Linked DNA regions of Homo sapiens: region 2 is linked to region 1. A link means that fine-mapping ties the variant in region 1 to the plasma level of a protein whose gene starts in the linked region. Region 1 holds a variant in brackets. A gene starts in the other region. All regions are shown on their reverse strands.

Region 1 (11,514 bases):
ATTTGTGATTAACAGATTTCTTTGAACAGACTAATTCATATGATAAACATTAAGACTTTTTTTAGGCTTAAAATTTTTTTTCCAGATCACAAAGCGATCTAAACTGTTAGGGCTTTAAAAAATCTACTTCCACAACTGGATATTGGTAATTCTGTTTTGCACTTTATTTTTTAAATTTTATTATTTTATTATTATTATTTTTTGAGACGGAGTCTCGCTCTGTCACCCAGGCTGGAGTGCAGTGGCACGATCTCGGCTCACTGCAAGCTCTGCCTCCCAGGTTCACGCCATTCTCCTGCCTCAGCCTCCCGAGTAGCTGGGACTACAGGCCCCTGCCATCACACCTGGCTAATTTTGTGTATTTTTAGTAGTGATGGGGTTTCACTGTGTTAGCCAGGATGGTCTCGATCTCCTGACCTGGTGATCCGCCCGCCTCGGCATCCCAAAGTGCTGGGATTACAGGCATGAGCCACTGTGCCTGGCCTCTGTTTTGCACTTTAAACATCAATTGGCTTATTTTTAAAATCTTGTATTTTGTTTCAAATAATGAGAAAGAAAAAATGATTTGACTCATTTGCAAGCCTTTGTCAGAAAATAACACATTGCAAGTGTAGACAATCTCTACTTAAAATTAAAAACTGAGTATATTAGGAGGGTGAGGTGGGAGGATCACTTGAGCCCAGGGGATTGAGGCAGCAGTGAGCTATGATCTCACCAGTGCACTGCAGCCTGGGTGACAGAGCAAGATTCTGTATCAAAAATAAAATAAAACCTAAGTATAATATCATTACAATTTTTTCCCAAAGGTGGGCATATTCCTGAAGATTACAATTTTTTACATTGACTTTTAAAGTCCTAGAGAGGGTTTGATGTGCTATATAAAGTTTTTGGTCATATGAATGGAATTTATAGAATCTGATGAAGATCATCTTGAGATTAAACTTGCAGAATTGTCATTCTTTTTTTTTTTTTTTTTTTTTTGAGACAGACTCTTGCTCTGTCTCCCAGGCTGGAGTGCAGAGACGCCATCTCTGCTCACTGCAAGCTCCACCCCCTGGGTTCATGCCATTCTCCTGCCTCAGCCTCCCAAGTAGCTAGGATTACAGGCGCCCGCCACCACGCCCAGCTAATTTTTTGTATTTTTAGTAGAGACGGGGTTTCACTATGTTAGCCAGGATGGTCTCGAACTTCTGACCTCGTGATCCGCCCGCCTCGGCCTCCCAAAGAGCTGGGATTACAGGCATGAGCCACCGCGCCCAGCCAGAATTATCACTCTTAATGCTCTTCATGAAATTGTATTTCTGGCTGGGCATGTGGCTCATGCCTGTAATCCCAGCAATTTGGGAGGCCTAGTCCTGCGGATCACTTGAGGTCAGGAGTTCAAGACCAACCTGGCCAACATGGTGAAACCCCATCTCTACTAAAAATACAAGAATCAGTGGGTATGGTGATGTGCACCTATGGTTCCAGTTACTCAGGAGGCTGAGGCAGAAGAATCGCTTGAACCCGGGAGGCGGAGTTTGTAGTGAGCTGAGATGGCAGCTGGGCAACAGATTGAGTGAGACTCCATTTCAAAAAAAAAAGAAAGAAAGAAATTATGTTTCAACATCAGTGTTCCTTGTTTCATGATGGATATAACTAGCCAAAACATTACTAAAAATATTAAAACTGTAAATGTCAAAATCTACATAACAGTTTATTGTTACAGTGTACTATTCTCCTCACCTATAGTATTGGACTCCTTGAAACCAATGTGAATTTACCTGGTATTCTGTGAGGTGACCTACTGTTGTTTTTCTAGAATAGGGAGTAGCAATAGATGACTGTTCATGGTGAACTCTACCTTGTAAAACAGAATTATGTATTTGCCTGACTTGCTTGATCAAATGGCTACTGTCTGTCACCCTGAGAAGAATATTGAAACATAGATGTTCACTGCTACTTCACTTCACTGGCTAAGATTCCTGGGTAGACTTCACTGGGCTCCTGGTCTCTATTTCCATTAAGACTCCTTTGCTTTGCTATAGCAGCCTGAAAAATTCCAAGAATTTTAAAAAGTTATTTTTCATCTTCAGAGAGGACACATTACTTGATGTAGAGTGGAGGCAGTCACTTCTGCACATTCTGTGCTGCTGAGGCAATTTCTGCTATTCGTTCCTCTGAACTTCCTTGGGTTTGTTTAGCTTCTATAAAATTATTCATTTTTCCAGAGAGTAAAAGTGCTACTGCTTCTATAATTTGGACTTCCCTACTTAAACTATTTTAAACTACTCAAAACTATATTCTGCTTTACAAGAGCCTTATTTTACTTCATTGCTCTGTTTGGGTTCCTGTTTTGCAAGGGCAAAAACTGAATAAAAATTATAGCATTCTATTTTCCAGCCACAAATGTGGTCCTCAGCTCTTTCTAATTATATAATCCCATGCTCCTGAGAGCTAGAATTTATTGTTAAGTGAAAAAATTTTGTATTTTATTGAATTTAAGCTGTCATCAATGGTGAAATTCACTGTTTACCAATAAGAAATAAAAATCATGCTCAATTAAACTGGGACACATCGCTGGTTGTAAAATGCATCCTCACTTTGGGAGGCCGAGGTGGGCAGATCACGAGGTCTAGAGATAGAGACCATCCTGGCCAACATGGTGAAACCCCGTCTCTACCAAAAATAATAAAATTAGCTGGGCATGGTGGCGCAGAGGCAGAGGTTGCAGTAAGCTGAGATTGCACCACTGCACTCCAGCCTGGAAACAGAGCGAGATTCCATCTCAAAAAAAAAAAAAAAAAAAAAAAGCATCCTAATTTCATGGATGTTAAAATGTGAAATATTGTCCATCTTAGAGAAATGTGCATGAAAGAAAAACTTACGGAAGAAGTACAGAGCCTAAATAAGCATAGGAGTGCTGGGTGCAGTGGCTCATGCCTATAACCCCAGCACTTTGGGAGACCAAGGCCGGAGGATCGCTTGAGCCCAGGAGTTTGAGGCCAACCTGGGCAGCATAGGGAGACCCCATCTCTACAAGTAATTTAAAGAAAAAATTAGCTGGGCATGGTGACATGTGCCTGTGGTCCCAGTTACCCAGAGGCTCTTGAGCCCGGAAGATCCAGGCTTCCGCGAACTGTGATTATGCCACTGCACTCCTCCAGCCTGGGTGACAGAGTGAGACTCTGTCTCAAAACAAGCATAGGAATAAGTATAGTGTAACCCCATTGGTTTTTAGAAGGGGCCAACCTCTGTAAAATTCTAGGGATGATCGAAGTATGGTTCTGTTCTTTTTGTCTGGATCCAGTTCAGCATCAGGATGAATTTAAAGCCAGAGCACCACAATGTTGATTTCTATTTAGCTCTTAAGCCATTTTAATTTCAGTGTTTTTTTTTCTAGAGCATGGCATACATCCATTAATTGTATAAAAGAGATGAAGAAGGTTGAAAGAGAAAGGCAATGAATTAAGGAATAGCAATTGGTAAATAATAAGGTTCTAGAGAGGAAGTATGCATTCAATTTGCTTTGCAGAACAAAACCAATTTTAGGCAGGGAAGAAAGGAAAAGTTTTAAAAGAAAGCTAACAGAACCAAGTGATTTATTGTTATAATTCGATATACCCTAATGATTGTGGCTTGTTTCTACATTCGTTATAAAGTAGTTCAGATATCATGGCCCTGTATTTTCATTCTGTTCTCAAGACCCATTGCTTTCTTGTGAACTTTGGGACTGAGATAACAGTACAGTAGATGGGGGTGGGGGGTTGGAGGTAGGGGTAATTAAAGAGAGTAGTCTCTTAGTAGCTGTGTGAGCCCCAGAGTGGATCGCAAGTGACTTGTAGCTGGGCAGACATAACTATATGAACAGATTGGTTGTGGCTGTGTTTTATGGTCAATTCTGTCCTTCCCTGTATTTCACAGGTTGAAGCAACAGTGTTAAGAAGAGAAACTCTTAACTCTTAACACAGTGTGAAGAAAAATGGAACAGTAGTGGGCAAAACTGTGGTTTATAAGTGTGTTCATTCTCCATCATTCGGTTTCCAGCTTCCTTAACTTTTATTCCTCCTTTGCTCTATCCTCACAGAATTGCTGGAATCCACAAATACCAAACTATGGCCATTGAAGCTGACCTTGGAGGGGGCAGCTTGGTTTATCTTGCTTATTTTCATCCTGGAGATCCTTCTTAAGTGGCTATCCAACTTTTCTGTTTTCTGGAAGAGTGCCTGGAATGTCTTTGACTTTGTTGTTACCATGTTGGTAAGGATAGAGATCCTGAGGGTTCGTTTAGTGGGATGAAGAATGTGCCTAGGTGAATCGAAAGAACAAGTTAACATGATAATAGGAAGAAACAAAAATTTACTTAACTTCTTTCTTTTGATTTTTTTTTCCTAAAACTAAACATCAATCATTGCAGGAGTTGTTGGTATTAGGAGCAAAGTAGACTAACTACAACATCAATGCCAACAAGAGCATCTGCCGGTTACTGAGCACTTACTAAGTGCCAAGCACTATTTTAAGTGTTTTCCTTACATTATCTCATTTATGCTCCACAACAACCTAATTAAATAACCATGAATTTTATCCCCCTTTTTATATCTGAACAAGTTGAAGTATAGTGTTTAAGCAACTTAATATAGAAAGGCTGAATAGTAAGCACTTCTCAGAGAATGCTATTCAAAGGATAACGCCCAGGGAACAATGAAGAGGATAAGATGAAGAAGCTGCAATTCTGCCTGGGTGCCTTGGGGTGTATTTTACTTATAACCTGTGTGTTTTCCACAGTCCCTGCTTCCCGAGGTTGTGGTATTGGTAGGGGTAACAGGCCAATCGGTGTGGCTTCAGCTTCTGAGGATCTGCCGGGTGCTGAGGTCTCTCAAACTCCTTGCACAATTCCGTCAAATTCGAGTTATTATTTTGGTCCTGGTCAGGGCCCTCAAGGTGATTTGACTGTTGCAAGCTAAAGCAGGGGGCAAGGTAGATAAATGTGAGGGCTTAACATAGAATATGAAACAAATTGGCCGGGTGCGGTGGCTCATGCCTGTAATCCCAGCACTTTGGGAGGCCGAGGGGGATGGGTCATGAGGTCAGGAGTTCGAGACCAGCCTGACCAACATGGTGAAACCCTGTCTCTACTAAAAATACCAAAAAAAAAAAAAAAAAAATTGCCGGGCTTGGTGGTGTGTGCCTGTAATCCCAGCTACTCAGGAGGCTGAGGCAGAAGAATCACTTGAACCCAGGAGGCG[G/A]AAGTTGCAGTGAGCCGAGACTGCTCCACTGCACTCCAGCCTAGGCGACAGAGTGAAACTCCGTTTAAAAAAAAAAAAAAGAATATGAAACAAATCTGGATGGGTCAAAGAAGGCAATGAAACGTCCTGTGAAATGTTATTGGATGAGAAGGGGCTGGGGACAGGTGCCATGGTTCAGAGATGACTGGGTTCAGCAGTGCAAGAGAGGGTTTGGTGGGAGATTGCCAGGTGGGCTTGACTGGGCTGTTGGTGGAGATCAGCCTAGTCTGGCCCACATCTGACTTGAGTTTATGGCCTCTAGAGCATGACTTTCCTCTTGATGTTGCTGCTCATCTTCTACATTTTTGTTGTGACTGGTGTCTACGTCTTCTCAGAGTACACCCATTTACCTCGTCAGGACCTGGAGTATCATGTATTCTCGTAAGCAGAGCTGAGTGACAGCTGAGTGAGGGGAGAAAATTTGGCTAAGAGACCAGGAAGCTTGTCCAAAGTATAGTAATATAAAAAGTACAGTCTATTCCAAGAAACTGAAATAGAACACAATAGGGAGAGGGAAAGAGAAAGCAAAAGAACAGTGAATGGTATTAGCTCTGATCTTGAGGTTAGGGCAGCTAGTTCCATGTTTATTCTGGGTTTTGCAAATTCAAACCACACTGTCATCAGGCATCTTTAAATAGCGGTACACTCCAGTGGTTGAGCTTGGTTTCTGTGACTCAGTTACGTCTTTTGAAAACTGGGGGCCAGGCACAGTGGCTCACCCCTGAAATCCCAGCACTTTGGGAGGCTGAGGCGGGTGGATCATGAGGTCAAGGGATCGAGACTATCATGGCCAACATGGTGAAAACCCATCTCTACCAAAAATACAAAAATTAGCCAGGCGTGGTGGCTTGCACCTGTAGTCCCAGCTACTCGGGAGGCTGAGGCAGGAGAATTGCTTGAATCTGGGAGGCAGAGATTGCAGTGAGCCGAGATCATGCCACTGTACTCCAGCCTGGCAACAGAGCGAGACTCCATCTCAAAAAAAAAAAAAAAAAGAAAAAGAAAAGAAAAATGGAAATAGGCTGGGCATGGTGGCTTACGCCTGTAATCCCAGCACTTTGAGAAGCCAAGGCGGGTGGATCACCTGAGGTCAGGAGTTCGAGACCAGCCTGGCCAACATGGTGAAACCCTGTCTCCACTAAAAATACAAAATTAGCTGGGCATGGTGGTGGGTGCCTGTAATCCCAGCTACTCGGGAGGCTGAGACAGGAGAATCACTTGAACTAGGGAGGCGGAGATTGCAGTGAGCTGAGATTGAGCCACTGCACTCCAGCCTGGGCTACAAAGAGTGAAATTCTGTCTCAAAAAAAAAGAAAGGTGGGGGGAATAATAGCAGTGCTACTTCATAAGAGTGTGGGGTTAAATGTGGTAATGCATTTAAGCACTTAGCACAGTATGTAACACGTTATAAGTGATCAATTAATGTTACTATGATTCTCAAATATGATCACTGGTTTTATCCCAATCTCTACATATTACACATGCACACGCCTATTCCTGATCTCTGTCTAGAAAACACTAATCAGTGCTCACTTCGGCAGCACATGTACTAAAATTGGAACGATATAGAGAAGATTAGCATGGCCCTTGTGCAAGGATGAAACACAAATTTATGAAGTGTTACATATTTTTTAAATATTAACAAAACCTCACTAATCAGTGTTTTCTAGAAGAAAATCAGCTTGAATTTAGAGTAGATAATCTTGCTTATGAATTATAATTCAATCTGGTCAGCGCCTCTCAGGACTCTGTTAGACTCTAACAGATAGTTTTGTAAGAGTATTGAGTTAGGAAAGTCCTAGAATTTATCCTATACAAGCTCTGATGTTTTCAATAAATTGTGTATGGGGAACTAAAAAGAAAGGTAGGAAAATTTAGATACCTTCCCGGAAACTTTTTACTTTTTTAGCAATTTTTAAATATTATTAATTTTATAATTTGTATATATTCATTATTTAGGATCACATATGTTTATGTAACATACCCATTTACTTGCATATCATTTCATACCAGCAAACTAATAGGAATAATTTTTTGAATGATCTTCTATTTTGCTAAATTTGCTAATTTTGCTAAATTTTGCTAAATTTACGAGTGATCTTCTATTAAGTGGAGTCCATAGAGCAGTGGAGAATAAAATTAGAAAAAACCGCTGGGCATGGTGGCTCACATCTGTAATCCCAGCACCTTGGGAGGTGGAGGCAGGCAGATAGATCACTTGAGGTCAGGAGTTCAAGACCAGCCTGGCCAACATGGTGAAACCCTGTCTCTACTAAAAATATGAAATATGAAAATTAGCTGGGCATGGTGGTGCACACCTGTAATCTCAACTACTCGGGAGGCTGAGTCAAGACAATCACTTGAGCCTGGGGGGCAGAGGTTGAAGTGAGCTGAGATCACGCCACTCCAGCTTGGATGATAGAGTGAGACTCTGTCTCAAAAAAAGAAAAAAAAATTAGAAAACTATCTAGTTGGTGATTCATTCATCTTTAAAAAATTGATCTTTAAAAATTCATTCATCTTTAAAAAATTCAGTCAATACCTATTTATTATTTATTATACCCCAGGACTAATGGAGTAGTGAGAGGTAGTCACAGATTATTCATGATAAAGGAGAATTTAGGCTGGGTGTGGTAGCTCACGCCTATAATCCTAGCATTTTGGGAGGCTGAGACTGGTGGATCACCTTAGGTCAGGAGTTTGAGACCAGCCTGGCCAACATGACAAAAGTTTAGTAGAGATGGCTCTACTAAAAATACACAAATTAGCTGGGCGTGGTGGTGCGTGCCTGTAATCCCAGCTCCTTGCGGGGCTGAGACGAGAATCTCTTGAACCCATGAGGTGGAGGTTGCAGTGAGCTGAGATCGTGCCACTACACTCCAGCCTGGGCAACAGAGCGAGACTCTGTCTCAAAAAAAATTAAATTAAATTAAATTAAATTAAAATAAAACAACTTCAAACAAGAATGATTAGCTAAAAACAGTATGGTAGAAAAGGAGCCAAAATCAGAACAAACTACAAAGAAATGCTTTATGTTTCTTTGAAAGTAGGAATGATACCATTTTTGAAAGGTTTAGGTCTCTGCTTCCGTCTATTCACATGCTTTTTTCTTTAGGGACCTCCCGAATTCCCTGGTAACAGTGTTCATTCTCTTCACCTTGGATCATTGGTATGCACTGCTTCAGGACGTCTGGAAGGTGCCTGAAGTCAGTCGCATCTTCAGCAGCATCTATTTCATCCTTTGGTTGTTGCTTGGCTCCATTATCTTTCGAAGTATCATAGTAGCCATGATGGGTAAGCATAGAGGAGGTGAAACTTGTTTGGGAAGTGTGGTTGGGAAAAAGTTATTCTGAAAGCTGGGATTGGTGGCTTATGGGTATAAAGAACCTAGTGTAGCAGGAAGGCTTGGGTTCTGGATTGGATATTTCACTTGGATTCTCCCCACCCAAGCCCTCTTCCCAAGTCTAGTCATTACCATCTCCCAGCTCCTAATGGCCCTTTGGGGAAGTCATTAACTTGCAGAATATCAGGAAAGAGCTGCATGAGGAGATGGCATGTCAGGAGGTTCAGCTCAAAGCTGATATGTTCAAGCGGCAGATCATCCAGAGATCTACTTCTCCCTTTTCAACCCCAACTTTCCTTCTCAAGGGTTTCCTGAGCTCATTTCTTGTTTCTGCTCCTTGACCCCACTTTTCCCTTTGTGACAGTAGATTTGCCCCCAAGGATAAGAATTCTCCAGCTCTAGAATATTGCCTGATTCTTCATCCACTGTGGGGAGTCCTCCATTTTTTTCACCCCGTGACTACAATTTGTTCTCCCCAATTAGTTTTCTTCACTTTCTGATATGAACTCTTTTTTTCTTACCACACTTTTGCTTGAATATAACTGTCTTTGCTCTTTTTTCTTTTTTTTTTCTTTTTTTTTTTTGCTTTGCAGGAGAAAAAAACATGTCACGTGAGGCACTGAGGTCAAGCCACAGCAAAATAGATGCCAGGTTAGGAGTATGTATGTGAACTGGGATAGAAACACATGAAGGAGGAGAGGGTGGAAAACTAAAGATGAAGATTGGCTTTGAGAGATAATTCATTCATTTAATAACTGCATATTGTAGTAGGTTGACTAGTGGCACCCGAAATAATATGTCCATGTCTTTGCTCCCTGGAACCTGTGAATGTGACCTTATTTGGAAAAAAAAAAAGATCCTAAGTTAAGGATCTTGAGATGAGATCATCCTAGATTATCCAGGTAGGTCCTAAATCCAATGGCAAGGGTACTTATAAGAGTTGAAAGAGGAGAAGACACAGAGAATAGGAGAAGGCGATGTGAAGACGGAGATAGAGGTTAGGGTTAATGCCGCCACAAGCCAAGGGAAGCTGAGGAATGCCAGGCAGCTGCCAGAAGGTAGAAGAGGCAAGGAACTTCTCCCCTAAAGCCTCCAGAGGGAATATGGCCCTGCCAACACCTTCATTTCAGACTCTAGCCTCTAGAATTGTGACGGAATATATTTCTGTCATTTTAAGCTACCAAGTTTATAGTAATTTGTTATGGCAGCCACAGGACACTAATACAAATACCTTCCATGAAACAGATATGATTCTAGACCCCAAGTGTTTAGCAGTGGACAAAAAAAGCAGAAGCAGAAGTAAACTCATTCACTCATTAACAAATAATTACTGGGTGGATGTGGTGGCTTACACTTGTAATCCCAACACTTTGAGAGGTGAAGGCAAGAGGATTGCTTGAAGTTCAAGCCAGAAGTTCAAGGCTGCATTGAGACATGATTGCACCACTATACTCCAGCCTGGGCAACAGAGCAAGATCCCATCTCAAAAATTTAGCAGGGTGGGCATGGGCACTCATGCCTATAATACCAGCATTTTCGAAAACTGAGGTGGGCAGATGACTTGAGCTCAGGAGTTCAAGACTAAACTAGGTAATATGGCAAAATCCTGTCTCTGCGAACAAAAATTAGCTGGATGTGGTGGTGTGTTCCTGTGGTCCCAGCTACTTAGGAGGCTGAGGTGGGAGGACTGCTTGAGCTGAGAGGTTGAGGCTGTGGTGAGCCGTGATTGTGCCACTGCTCTGCAGCCTGGGTGACAGAGCAAGACCCTGTCTCAAAAAAAACAAACAAAAACAATAAAGAACAAATAATTATTGAATACTTAGTAGGTGCTTGGGATGTTATCAGTGAACAAAATAGACAATAATGCCTGCTTCATGGAGCTTACATATTAGTAGTGGTAAAGAGATAATAAGCAGTGAATATATTAAGTAATCTGTTAAAATATGATAAGCATTATGGGAAAGTTAAAAGTAGAACAGGTTAAGGGAGATTGGGAGTATAAGGTGGGATTGCAGATGGGTTGTAGTTTTTTTTTCTTGAGACAGAGTCTCGCTCTGTCACCAGGCTGTGGAGTGCAGTGGCACGATATATCGGCTCACTGCAACCTCCGCCTCCTGGGTTCAAGCGACTCTCCTGCCTCAGCCTCCCAAATAGCTGGGACTACAGGTGCCTGCCACCATGCCTGGCTAATTTATTTGTTTATTTTTTTGTATTTTAGTAGAGACGAGGTTTCACCATGTTGCCCAGGCTGGTCTCAAGTTCCTGAGCTCAGGCACTCCACCCGCCTCAGCCTCCAAAAGTGTTAGGATTACAGGCGTGAGCTATCGTGCCCAGCCGCAGATGGGTTGTAGTTTTAAACAGGGTAGTCACGGTGACCTCATTGAAAAGGTAATGTGAGCAAAGACTCGAAGGAGGTAAAGGGATTACCATGTGGATATCTGTAAGAAGAGTGTTAATAGGCAGATGAAACAGCTAGTGCAAAGCTCCTAAGCTGGATGCATGCTTGGTGTGTTTGAGAAACAGCAAAGAGGCCATTGTGACTGGAGTAGAGTGAGCAGGGGGAAGAGTGCTGGGAAATGAAGTCAGAGAGAGAATGGTGACCTGATCCTGTAGGGTTATGGGTGCCATTGTAGGGACTTTGAAATGGCAAGCAGAACAGAGGGGTGACATGAAGTGACTTACGTTTAAGAAGGATTACTCTGGTTGCTGTGTTGATAGAAGAACAAGGGAAGGAGCAGAGAGATCAGCTGGGAGGCTATGCTGCTGCCCAGGCAAGAAATGATGACAGCTTAGGCCAGAGTGGTGGCAGTGAGTTATTGAGAAAAGATATATTTCGAAGGTAGAGTCAGCAGGATTTCTTGATGGACTGGATATGGGAGGGAAGAGAAGAGTTAAGGATGACACATG
Region 2 (10,950 bases), not on the chromosome of region 1:
TCAATGTCATGAAGATTTTGCCCTGTGTTTTTTAGTTTGTTTGTTTGTTTGTTTTTTGATATGGAGTCTTGCTCTGTCGCCCAGGCTGGAGTGCAGTGGCGCAATCTTGGCTCACTGCAAGCTCTGCCTCCCGGGTTCATGCCATTCTCCTGCCTCAGCCTCCTGAGTAGCTGGGATTACAGGCACCCACCACCAAACCCGGCTAATTTTGTTTTTGTATTTTTAGTAGATACAGGGTTTCACTGTGTTAGCCAGGATGGTCTCGATCTCCTGACCTCATGATCTGCCCGCCTCGGCCTCCCAAAGTGCTGGGATTACAGGCATGAGCCACCGTGCCCGGCCTCTATGTTTTCTTCTAAGAGCTTCATAGTTTTAGCTCTTATATTTAGATTTTAGATCTATTTTGAGTTAATATTTGTATAGTGTTAAATCATGGTTCAACTTCATCTTTTTGCAGGTAGATACCAGTTTCCTATGGCAACATTTGTTAGAAAGGTTGTCTTTTCCCTCATCAAATAGTCTTGGCACTCTTGTCAAAAATCATTTGACCATATATGCAAGAGTTTATTTCTGGGCTCTCTATTCTATTCCATTGGTCTATATGTCTGCTGCTATGCCAATATCACACTGTTTTGATTTATAGTAGCTTTGCAGTAAGTTGTGATATCAGGAAGTTGTTCGTTTTCAATATTGTTTTGTCTATTTGGGGTCCCTTGAGATTTTATATGAATTTTAGGATGGGCTTTTCAATTTCTGCAAAAAAACATGATTGAGATTTTGATAGGGATTGCGTTGAATCTGTGGATCACTTTGGGTACTGTTGGCCTCTTAACAATAGTAAGTCTTCTAATCCATGGACATGGAATGCATTTTCATGTATTTATATCTCCTTTAATTTCTTTCAGCAATGTTTTATAGTTTTCATTGTATAAACCTTTTAACTCCTTGGATAAATTAATTCCTAAGTATTTTATTTTTATCCTATTGTAAATGGGATTGTTTTCAAAATTTTATTTTCAAATGGCTCATTGTTAATATGTAGAGATGCAAGTGGTTCTTGTTTCTTGACTTGTAATCCACTAATTTGCTGAATTCATTTATCAGTTCTAATAGTTTTTTGTGTGAAATCTTTAGGGTTTTCTACATATAAAATCATAAGAAGTAGCCGGGCGTGGTGGTGTGTGCCTGTAGTCCCAGCTACTCAGGACGCTGAGGCAGAAGAATCGCTTGAACCCGGGAGGCGGAGGTTGCAGTGAGCCCAGAAGGAGCCACTGCACTCCAGCCTGGCGACAGAGCAAGACTCCGTCACCAAAAAAAAAAAAAAAAAAATTCATAAGAACAAGAGATAATTGCACTTCTTCCTTTTCAACCTGGATGCCTTTAATTTCCTTTTCTTGCCTAATTGCTCTGGCTAGAACTTTTAGGGCTATGTTGAATGGAACTAGCAAAAGTGGGCATCCTTTTCTTGTTCCTGATATTAGCAGAATAGCCTTTAATCTTTCACCATTGAGTATGATATAATGTTTGTTATGACTTTCTCATACATGCCTTTTATTATATTGAGGTAGTTTCCTTTTATTCCTGGTTTGTTAAATGTTTTCATCATGAAAGGGTGTTGAATTTTGTCAAATGCTTTTTCTGCATCAATTAAGATGATTGTATGATTTTTCTCCTTCATTCTGTTAATGTGGTGAATTATATTGATTGTTTTTCGTACACTGTGCCACCTTTATATTCCAGGAATAAATCCCACAGTGTATAATCCTTTTAATACATTGCTAAATTTGGCTTGCTGGCATTTTGTTGAGGATTTTTGCATCAGTATTCATAGGAGATATTGGTGTATGTTTTCTTTTTTCCTAGTGTATGTCTGCCTTTGGTATCAGGGTAATGCTCACCCCTGGAATGAGTTAGGAAATGTTCCTTCTCTTTGATCTTTTGGCAAAGTTTGAGAAGCATTAGCATTAATTCTCCTTCAAATGTTTGGCAGAATTCACCAGTGAAGCCATCTGGTCCAGGGCTTTTCATTTTGGGGAGATTTTTGATTATTGATGCAATATCTTTAATTCAAATTTTCTATTACTTCATGATTTAGTCTTGGTAAGATATATGTTTCTAGGAATTTGTTCATTTCATCTAGATTATCCAATTTGTTGGCATGTAATTGTTTAATTACTCTTATAATTCTTTTAATTTTTGTAAAATGTAATGTTCCCACTTTCATTTTAACTTTAATAATTTGAGTCTTTTTATCTTTTTTTGTTGTTAGTGTAGCTAAAGGTTTGTCAATTTTGTTCATCTATTTGAAGAACCAACTTTTGGTTGCACTGATTTTCTCAATTGTTTTTCTCTTATCTGTATTATTATTTATTTATTTATTTATTATTATTTTGAGACAGAGTCTCCCTCTGTCACTCAGGCTGGAGTGCAGTGGTGTGAAGCCTCTGCCTCCCCTGTTCCAGTGATTCTCCTGCCTCAGCCTCTCAAGTAACGGGGGTTACAGGCATCTGCCACCATGCCTGGCTAATTTTTGTTTTTTTGTTTTATTTATTTATTTATTTAGAGACAGAGTCTAGCTCTGTTGCCCAGGCTGGAGTGCAGTGGCATGATCTTGGCTCACCGCAACCTCCACCTCCCAGGTTCAAGCAATTCTCTTGCCTTAGCCTCCCAAGTAGCTGGGATTACAGGTATGCACCACCACAGCTAATTTTTATATTTTTAGTAGAGACGGGATTTCACCATGTTGGCCAGGTTGGTCTTGAACTCCTGACCTCAGATGATCCACCTGCCTTGGCCTCCCAAAGTGCTGGGATTATAGGTGTGAGCCACTGCGCCCAGACAATTTTTTTTTTTTTTTTTTTTTTTTTTGAGACGGAGTCTTGCTCTGTCGCCCAGGCTGGAGTGAGTGCAGTGGTACGATCTCGGCTCACTGCAACCTCCACCTCCTGGGTTCAAGCAATTTCCTGCCTCAGCCTCCCGAGTAGCTGGGACTATAGGCGTGTGCCACCAAGCCCAGCTAATTTTTTGTATTTTTAGTAGAGATGAGGTTTCACAGTGTTAACAGAATGGTCTCGATCTCCTGACCTCGTGATCCACCCACCTTAGCCTCCCAAAGTGCTGGGATTACAGGCATGAGCCACCTTGCCGGGCCTATTTTTAATTTTTTCACAAGTATTTGTGCCTAAAGGTATTCTCTGTTTTATTTATCTCTTCTCTAATCTCTATTATTTCCTTCCTTATAATAGTTTTGGGTTTAACTCATTCTTTAATCTTCTTTAGTCTCCTTTAATCTCTTTTAGTAATGTTTTGTAGTTTTCTTTTCTTTTAAAAAAAAACCTTTTTATTATGGAAAATTTCAAATATATAAAAAAGTAGAGAAAATAGTCTATTAAACACCTATTTCTCATCACCTAATTCCAAGAATTATCAATTCATAGTCATATACTCCACATTTTCTCACCTCCACCATTTTCAAGCAAATAATATATTTTCATCCATAAGTATTTCAGTATGAATCTCTAAATGATGAGAGCTCTTTTTTTTCTTTGACTTTTTTTTTTTAATACTTTAAGTTTTAGGGTACATGTGCACAACGTGCAGGTTTTTTACATATGTATACATATGTCATCTTGGTGTGCTGCACCCATTAACTCATCATTTAACATTAGCTATATCTCCTAATGCTATCCCTCCCCCTCCCCCCACCCATGTAGTTTTCAATGTACAAGTTTTACACTTATAGCTGCTATTATAAATGCAATTTTCTTAACTTCATTTTCAAATTATTCATTGCACATATATAGAGATATCATCGATTTTCGTGTATTGATAGTGTATCCTGCAACTTAGCTGAACCCATTTATTAGTACTTATTTTGTGTGTGTGTGTCTATGTGTGTGTAAGTTTGAGTTTTTTTAATATGCAACATCATGCTACCCACTAATATAGGTTGTTTTACTTCATCCTTTCTAATCGGGTACATTTTATTTCATTGTCTTGCTTAATTACTCTGGCTGGAACCTCCAGTACAATGTTGAATAGAAGTAGCAAGAGTGAGCATCCTTGTCTTGTTTCTTCTTTTAGGAATTTTACTTGTTTATTTTAAACACTATTGTAATTGGAATTTTTTTTTTCATTTTATTTTTCTGTAGAAACAGGGTCTCACTATGTTGCCAAAGCTGGTCTCAAATTGCTACCCTCAAGCAATCGTCCCACCTCAGCCTCCCAAAGTCCAGGTGTTACAAGCTTGAGCCATGGTAACCAGCTGGAATTTTCTAAGTTAATTTTCTTTTTTTTTTTTTTGAGACAGAGTCTTGCTCTGTTGCCTAGGCTGAAGTGCAGTGGCGCGATCTTGGCTTACTGCAACCTCCGCCTCCCGGGTTCAAGCGATTCTCCTGCCTCAGCCTCCCGAGTAGCTGGGATTACAGGCGCCCACCACCACACTCAGCTAAATTTTTTTCTTTCTTTTCTTTGAGATGGAGTCTCACTCTATCACTCAGGCTGGAGTGCAGTGGCGCGATCTCGGCTCATTGCAACCTCTGCAGCCCAGGTTCAAGCGATTCTCCTGCCTTAGCCTCCTGAGTAGCTGGGATTACAGGCACACACCACCACGCCCAGCTAATTTTTGTATTTTTAGTAGAGATGGGGTTTCACCATGTTGGCCAGGGTGGTCTTGAACTCTTGACCTTGTGATCCACCCGACTCAGCATCTCAAAGTGCTGGGATTACAGGTGTGAGCCACCGCGCCTGGCCAATTTTTTGTATTTTTAGTAGAGACAGGGTTTCACTGTGTTAGCCAGGATGGTCTTGATCTCCTGACCTCGTGATCCACCCACCTTGGCCTCCCAAAGTGCTAGGATTACAGGTGTGAGCCACCGCACCCGGCCCTAAGTTAACATTCAATGTATGTTTTTAGACTACAGAAATAGAATTCATTTATATATTAATATTTTATCTTGTCACCTTGCTAAATTAACTTATTGGTCCTTTTAAAATTGTATTCTTTAGGATTTATGCATAAACAATCACATTGTTTCTTTTAATTTTTTATTTTTTAATTATTATTTTATTTATCTATCTATCTATCTATTTATTTATTTATTTATTTGAGACAGGGTCTCCCTCTGTCACCCAGACTGGAGTTCAGTGGTACGATCACAGCTTACTGAAGCCTCAACCTCCTGGGCACAAGTGATCCTCCTGAGAAACTGAGACTACAGGCGTGTGCCACCACAGCTGGACAGCTGAGCTGGCTAATTTTTTTTTTTTTTTTTTTTTTTTTTGCAGAAACAGGGTCTCCCCTATGCTGCCCAGGCTGGTCTTGAACTCCTGGACTTTGGCCTCCCAAAGTGTGTGAGCCACCATGCCTAGTCCATGTTGTTTTTATTTTGTATTACTTTTTTAAATTTTATTATTATTACTTTTTGAGACATGGTCTCACTCTGTCACCAAGGTTAGAGTGCAGTGGCAGAATCATAGCTCACTGTAACCTCCCCCTCTTGGGTTCAAGCAATTCTCCTGCCTCGGCCTCCCGAGTAGCTGGGGCTACAGATGCACACCACCACCCCTGGCTGTGTTTTTTATTTTTTGTAAAGATGGGGTTTCACCATGTTGGCCAGGCTGGTCTCGAACTCCTGGTCTCAAGCCCCGCCCCATGTCTTTTTTTTGTTTTTTTGTTGTTGCTGGTTTTTTTTTTTTTTTTTTTTTTTAGATAGACTCTCACTCTGTTGCCAGGCTGGAGTGCAGTGGCGAGATCTCGGCTCACTGCAATCTCTGCCTCCCGGGTTCAAGTGATTCTCCTGCCTCAGCCTCCCGAGTAGCTGGGATTACAGGTGCGCACCACCATGCCTGGCTAATTTTTTGTACTTTTAGTACAGACGGGATTTCACCATGCTGGCCATGGCTAGTCTTGAACTCCTGACCTCGTGATCTGCCCGTCTCAGCCTCCCAAAATGCTAGGATTACACGCGTGAGTCACTGCGCCCAGCCCCCATGTTGTTTTTAAGAGTCTCATGTTCTACCGACTGAGCCAGCCAGAGCTATGTTGTATTTAAATAAATATCGTTCTACATCTTCCTTTCTAGTTTTATGCCATTTATTTTTTATTCTTTCCACATTACACTGGTTAGAACTTCCAGTACAATGAGGAAAAACTGGTAAGAATGGATATTTCTGCTTTGTGATAGATCTTAGGAGACAAGGATTAAATCTTTCACTCCTTCTAGTGTTGCTACACAGAAACTATAGAGTCCTAGGAGGCTGGGTGCAGTGGCTCAGCACTCTGGGAGGCCTAGACAGGAGGATCCCTTGAGCCCAGGAGCTCGAGACCAGCCTGGCCAACATAGTGAGTTCCCTTCTCTACAAGAAAATTTTAAAAATTAGCCAGGTGTGGTGGTACGTGCCTGAAGTCCCAGATATATAGGAGTCCGAGGTGGGAGGATTGCTGGAGCTTGGGAGTTCAAGGCTGCAGTGAGCTGTGATTGTACCAACTGCACTCCAGCCTGGTATACGTGTATGTGTGTGTACGTATATTTTATCCATGTAGGTATATGTATATATATTGTCTTAGGGATTCCCCAGGGGTTTGGGGTCTAGTAATTTCAGACAGTGTTGGACTCCTTTCCACTTAGTTCTTGCTGTTTCTAAGTTGGCACTGTGTCCCTGGAGACTTACTCCTCTGCTTCTGTCTTTGCTCTTAGTTGTCAGGGGCCACTCCTGGGAACTGAAAGAACCGAAAAAAATAGAGGGAGGGACCCTGGACCCTGCCATTGGCCTAGTCCCTTTGGCCATGTGCCTGAGGTGAGTGACATCAGAGGAAACTTTAGGCCATAATGATATGTAGGAACTGGTACCATTTTTAGGAGGCATCAGATGTCTTATTTCCCTAATTTTTGGACTAATGTTACCCCTAAACCCAAGATAAAGCCTAATTCCTGGAGTTTTGGTTAGATTTGGAAAGTTACTGCTCAGCTGATGGACATGTTTTATTTGTGTTTTGCATTGGAATTAGAAAAGTGAAAAATAAACCAGGTGCAGTGGTTCATGCCTCTAATCACAGCACTTTGGGAGGCTGAGGTGGGAGGACTGCTTGAGACCAAGAGTTCAAGACCAGTCTGGGAAACATAGTGAAACCTCATCTCTACAAAAAAAAAAAAAAAAAATTTTAGCTAGGCATGGTGGTGCACACCAGTAGTCACAGCTACTTGAGAAGCTGAGGCAGGAGGATCTTTTGAACCCAGGAGTTAAACGCTGTGGTGAGCCATGATCAGGCCACTGTACTCCAGCCAGGGAGATAGAGCAATACCTGGACTGGACTCTAAAAAAGAAAAAAAAAGTTGCTCTGATTTTGTCTTATTTGTCAATCTGTCCAGTTTCCCTGGACTCCCATCCAGTATATTCTCTTTTTCAGACAAAGTCTCGCTCTGTCACCCAGTCTGGATGGTGCAGTGGTGTAATCATGGCTCACTGCAGCCTTGACCTCCCCAGGTTCAGGTGATCCTCCCACCTCAGCCTCCCCAGTAGCTGGGACTACAGGTGCATGCCACCACTCCTGGCTAATTTTTATAATTTTTGTAGAGACGGGGCTTTCGCCATGTTGCCTAGGCTGGTCTCAAACTTCTGGGCTCAAGCCATCTGCCTGCCTTGGCTTCCCAACCAATATATTCTTTTAATAAGAAAAATGGTGACCAGGCGCTGTGGCTGGCTCAAGCCTGTAATCCCAGCACTTTGGGAGGCCAAGGTGGGCAGATCACCTTAGGTCAGGGGTTCAAGATCAGCCTGGCCAACATGAAGAAACCCCGTCTCTACCAAAAATACAAAATTAGCCGGGAATGGTGGCACACGCCTGTAATCCCAGCTACTTGGGAGGCTGAGGCAGGAGAATCACTTGAACCTGGGAGGCGGAGGTTGCAGTGAGCTGAGATCGCGCCATTGCACTCCAGCCTGGTCAACAAGAGCGAAACTCCGTCTCAGAAAAAAAAAGAAAAGAAAAATGGTTTAGGGGTCCCAGAGATCACCAGCTATTCTGCCTTACCCTTTCTCCCCTCAAGAAGATACGGAGGACCTTTTCCTCAGCTCAAATATAGGTTTAGGGTAAAACCTTAGGATAGAAAAGATATGTCACTGGGTGCCGTGGCTCACGCCTGTAATCCCAACACTTTGGGAGGCCGAGGCAGGCAGATCATTCGAGGTCAGGAGTTTGAGACCAGCCTGACTGACATGGTGAAACTCCATCTCTACTAAAAATACAAAAACATTAGCTAGGCGTGGTGGCGCACACCTGTAGTCCCAGCTACTCGGGAGGCTGAGGCAAGAGAATCTCTTGAACCTGGGAAGTGGAGGTTGCAGTGAGCCAAGATCACGCCATTGCATTCCAGCCTGAGCAACAGAGTGAGACTGTCTCCAGAAAACAAAACAAAACAAAAATTTGCCAGGCATGGTGGTGCGTGCCTGTAATCCCAACTACTAGGGAGACTGAGACACAAGAATCGCTTGAACCCGGGATGTGGAGGTTGCAGTGAGCTGTGATCGTGCCACTGCACTCTACCCTGGGCAACAGAGTGAGACTGTGTCTCCAGAAAAAAAAAGGAAAAGAAAAAGAAAAAGAAAAAAAAAAAAAGATATGGGACAGGACTGCAGGGCCTAAAAGGGGAAAGGTCAGTTTGTCAGTATGGGTCAAAGGTGAGAAGGACAAAGTCTGGGCTGGGAAGAGATGCATAAATATTTGCAAATGTTTTGTCCTTCACTGTTTTGGAAGCCATCAACTTTCTGGTTTCCTTGTGATTCTGGGAAAGGGCAGATTAAAAACAGCAACAACAACAATAATAGTAATTCAGGTCATGAAGATACCAAAGCAAATGAGATGTTTGGACTGTTTTTTTCCTCTGACTTGTTTCTCCTCAAAATAGGAGGATCACCCACATCCTTTAAGAGTGAAGATGAGGTGTGCTCAGGGCAACCGAAGTTTCCAAGAGCTAAGACACTTTCTAGCTCTGGCCAGTCTTGGTGTCTCTTTGTCCTGAGCCTTTCTCCACTTCCCAACCTGAGCACTGCTTCCTTCCAGCAGGGCTGCTCTGCTGTCCCCCCATGGTCCAAGCTGTGCTGCTGCTTTGCTGTGTCCTGCTGTCCCTGGTGTCTGCCTTTCCAAGAAATGCTCAGAATGAGACTCTGACCCTCCAGCCATCTTTAACAGAGACTGGGCATCCATCAAACATGCTCTCCATTATTTGGAGAACATGGAGAGCCAGATTCCTCTCCCAGATCCCAGGATCTGCCAAGATCTCTTACACACAGCCCCCTCCCTAGCCCCTCTGCCTGAGTACCTGTCCAACTTAGCTCTGAGGGTGCCCTTGGAGGAGGTGGGCTGCCCAACTGAGGCCCATGTTCTGCAGTTTCAGATGCGAGGAAAGGATACCACTGAAACCCTCATCCGTGAGAGTCAAAAAGTTCAATGGGGAGGAAGGCAATACCAACATCATTGTGACGAATCTAGTAGTCCCTTAGGGAAGTGTGAATAAACCCAGCACCCAGCTGCCCATCCTGGGAAATGTATGGATGGTGGCAAATATACCCACTGGGGTAGCTGGCCTACCAGGTAGCTCAGATGGTGATTGAGTTTGCTGAGAAACCATCTCCCATGATGCTTGGTGTCACAGTTCAAAGTTTTGGGTGTCCACATCACCAAGAACTGCAGGTATGAGTCTTGGGAGCATATTGAAGAATTAGGCAAAAAGTTGAAGAAGCTCTCAAGATCATTTAAATTGTCCATGGACAGTGACAATATAATCTATCAAATGTTCCACAGCTATTCTGAAGTGCTTTGTGAGGAAAATGATCCAGGAATTGATCCCGGCTCATTTCAGCTATTCAATATCACATAAGTAATGAGTCTCCTTTCCCAGGACTGTATTCAAGGATGGCACACAGTAAGTAGTTAGAAATGTTGGAGACCACTTAGGACAGATGAATGCTCTTTATTTCACCTCTTCCCTTAAACACATATGTGACCAGTGTTAGCCTTGCCCCTCTCCACTTAGTAGGTGTCAGCTCCCCTCCTTTTTTTTTTTTAAGACGGAGTCTCACTCTGTCACCCAGGCTGGAGTGCAGTAGTGCGATCTTGGCTTACTGCAACCTCCACCTCCCGGGTTCAAGCAATTCTCCTGCCTCAGCCTCCTGAGTAGCTGGGACTACAGACGCCCACCACCACGCCTGGGTGTATATATATATATATATATATATATATTTTTTTTTTTTTAGTAGAGACAGGGTTTCACCATATTGGCCAGGCTGGTCTCGAACTCCTGACCTTGTGATCCGCCCGCCTTGGCCTCCCAAAGTGCTGGGATTACAGGCGTGAGCCACCATGCTCAGCCGCTAATTTAATTTTTAAAATGAAGAGAAATGAGAGTATCACAAACATCTCATCTTTCCTAATTCTGAATTTCCCTGGCTCCTATCATGAGCTTAGAGTGGGAATGTGGCAGGGACATACAGGAAATGCCAAAGAACAGGACTGTAGGCATAGAGGTTGAGTGTGTGACAAGGGGCACAAGGTTTGAGCAGCCAGTATAAATGGGCAAATATTTGCAGAGATTACATCCTTCACTGATCATAGGGGAAAGCAAATATCTCCTTTCCTCATGGGACACAGAACTAGGCAGAACAGGATCAGGAAGCGATCAAACCTACCAAGGCAGTCTCACTTCTCAATGACTGGACTGTGTGGTAATTTGGGGTCCCTATATATGGGTGGAAATAAAACAGAAGTCCCTGGTGACCTGTAAATGGGGGAGACCAAGTGGGAGCAACTGGGGTGCATTTCCTATTTCCTAGGCCTTTACCTAAAAAGAACAGAAGCTTGGGGCCAGGCGCGGTGGCTCACATCTGGAAGCCTATCACTTTGGGAGGCGGAGGTGGAAGGATCACTTGAGCCCAAAGTTCAGAACTAGGCTG

Which allele goes with the higher level. Positions count from the first base shown, and alleles are read on the strand shown. Strength reflects both the effect of a copy and how common the allele is.
In carriers of allele G in region 1, the plasma level of the protein whose gene starts at base 10,595 in region 2 tends to be higher than with A alone (weak association).

The links. A credible set is the group of variants that fine-mapping cannot tell apart. PIP is the posterior inclusion probability: the model's chance that the variant is causal. Protein levels are from antibody-based Olink assays in UK Biobank. Linkage for the fine-mapping came from a reference panel and not from the study's own genotypes, which makes the PIPs less certain.
Region 2: APOF starts here. The variant in region 1 is the best candidate, but not a certain one, in a credible set for the plasma level of the APOF protein (UK Biobank, PIP 0.64).

The regions. Positions count from the first base shown.
Region 1 is chr15:43,729,561-43,741,074 of GRCh38, reverse strand. It overlaps the pseudogene RNU6-354P and the pseudogene CATSPER2P1. Among named protein-coding and RNA genes, the nearest start is that of PDIA3, 11 kb to the left of the region's middle. RefSeq lists enhancers at 5,292-5,341, 5,422-5,491, 5,502-5,581. The variant G/A (reference allele first, on the strand shown) is at 5,226.
Region 2 is chr12:56,362,502-56,373,451 of GRCh38, reverse strand. APOF (apolipoprotein F) reads left to right here and starts at 10,595. Exons shown (of 2, transcript NM_001638.4): 1 at 10,595-10,722. The coding sequence starts at 10,707.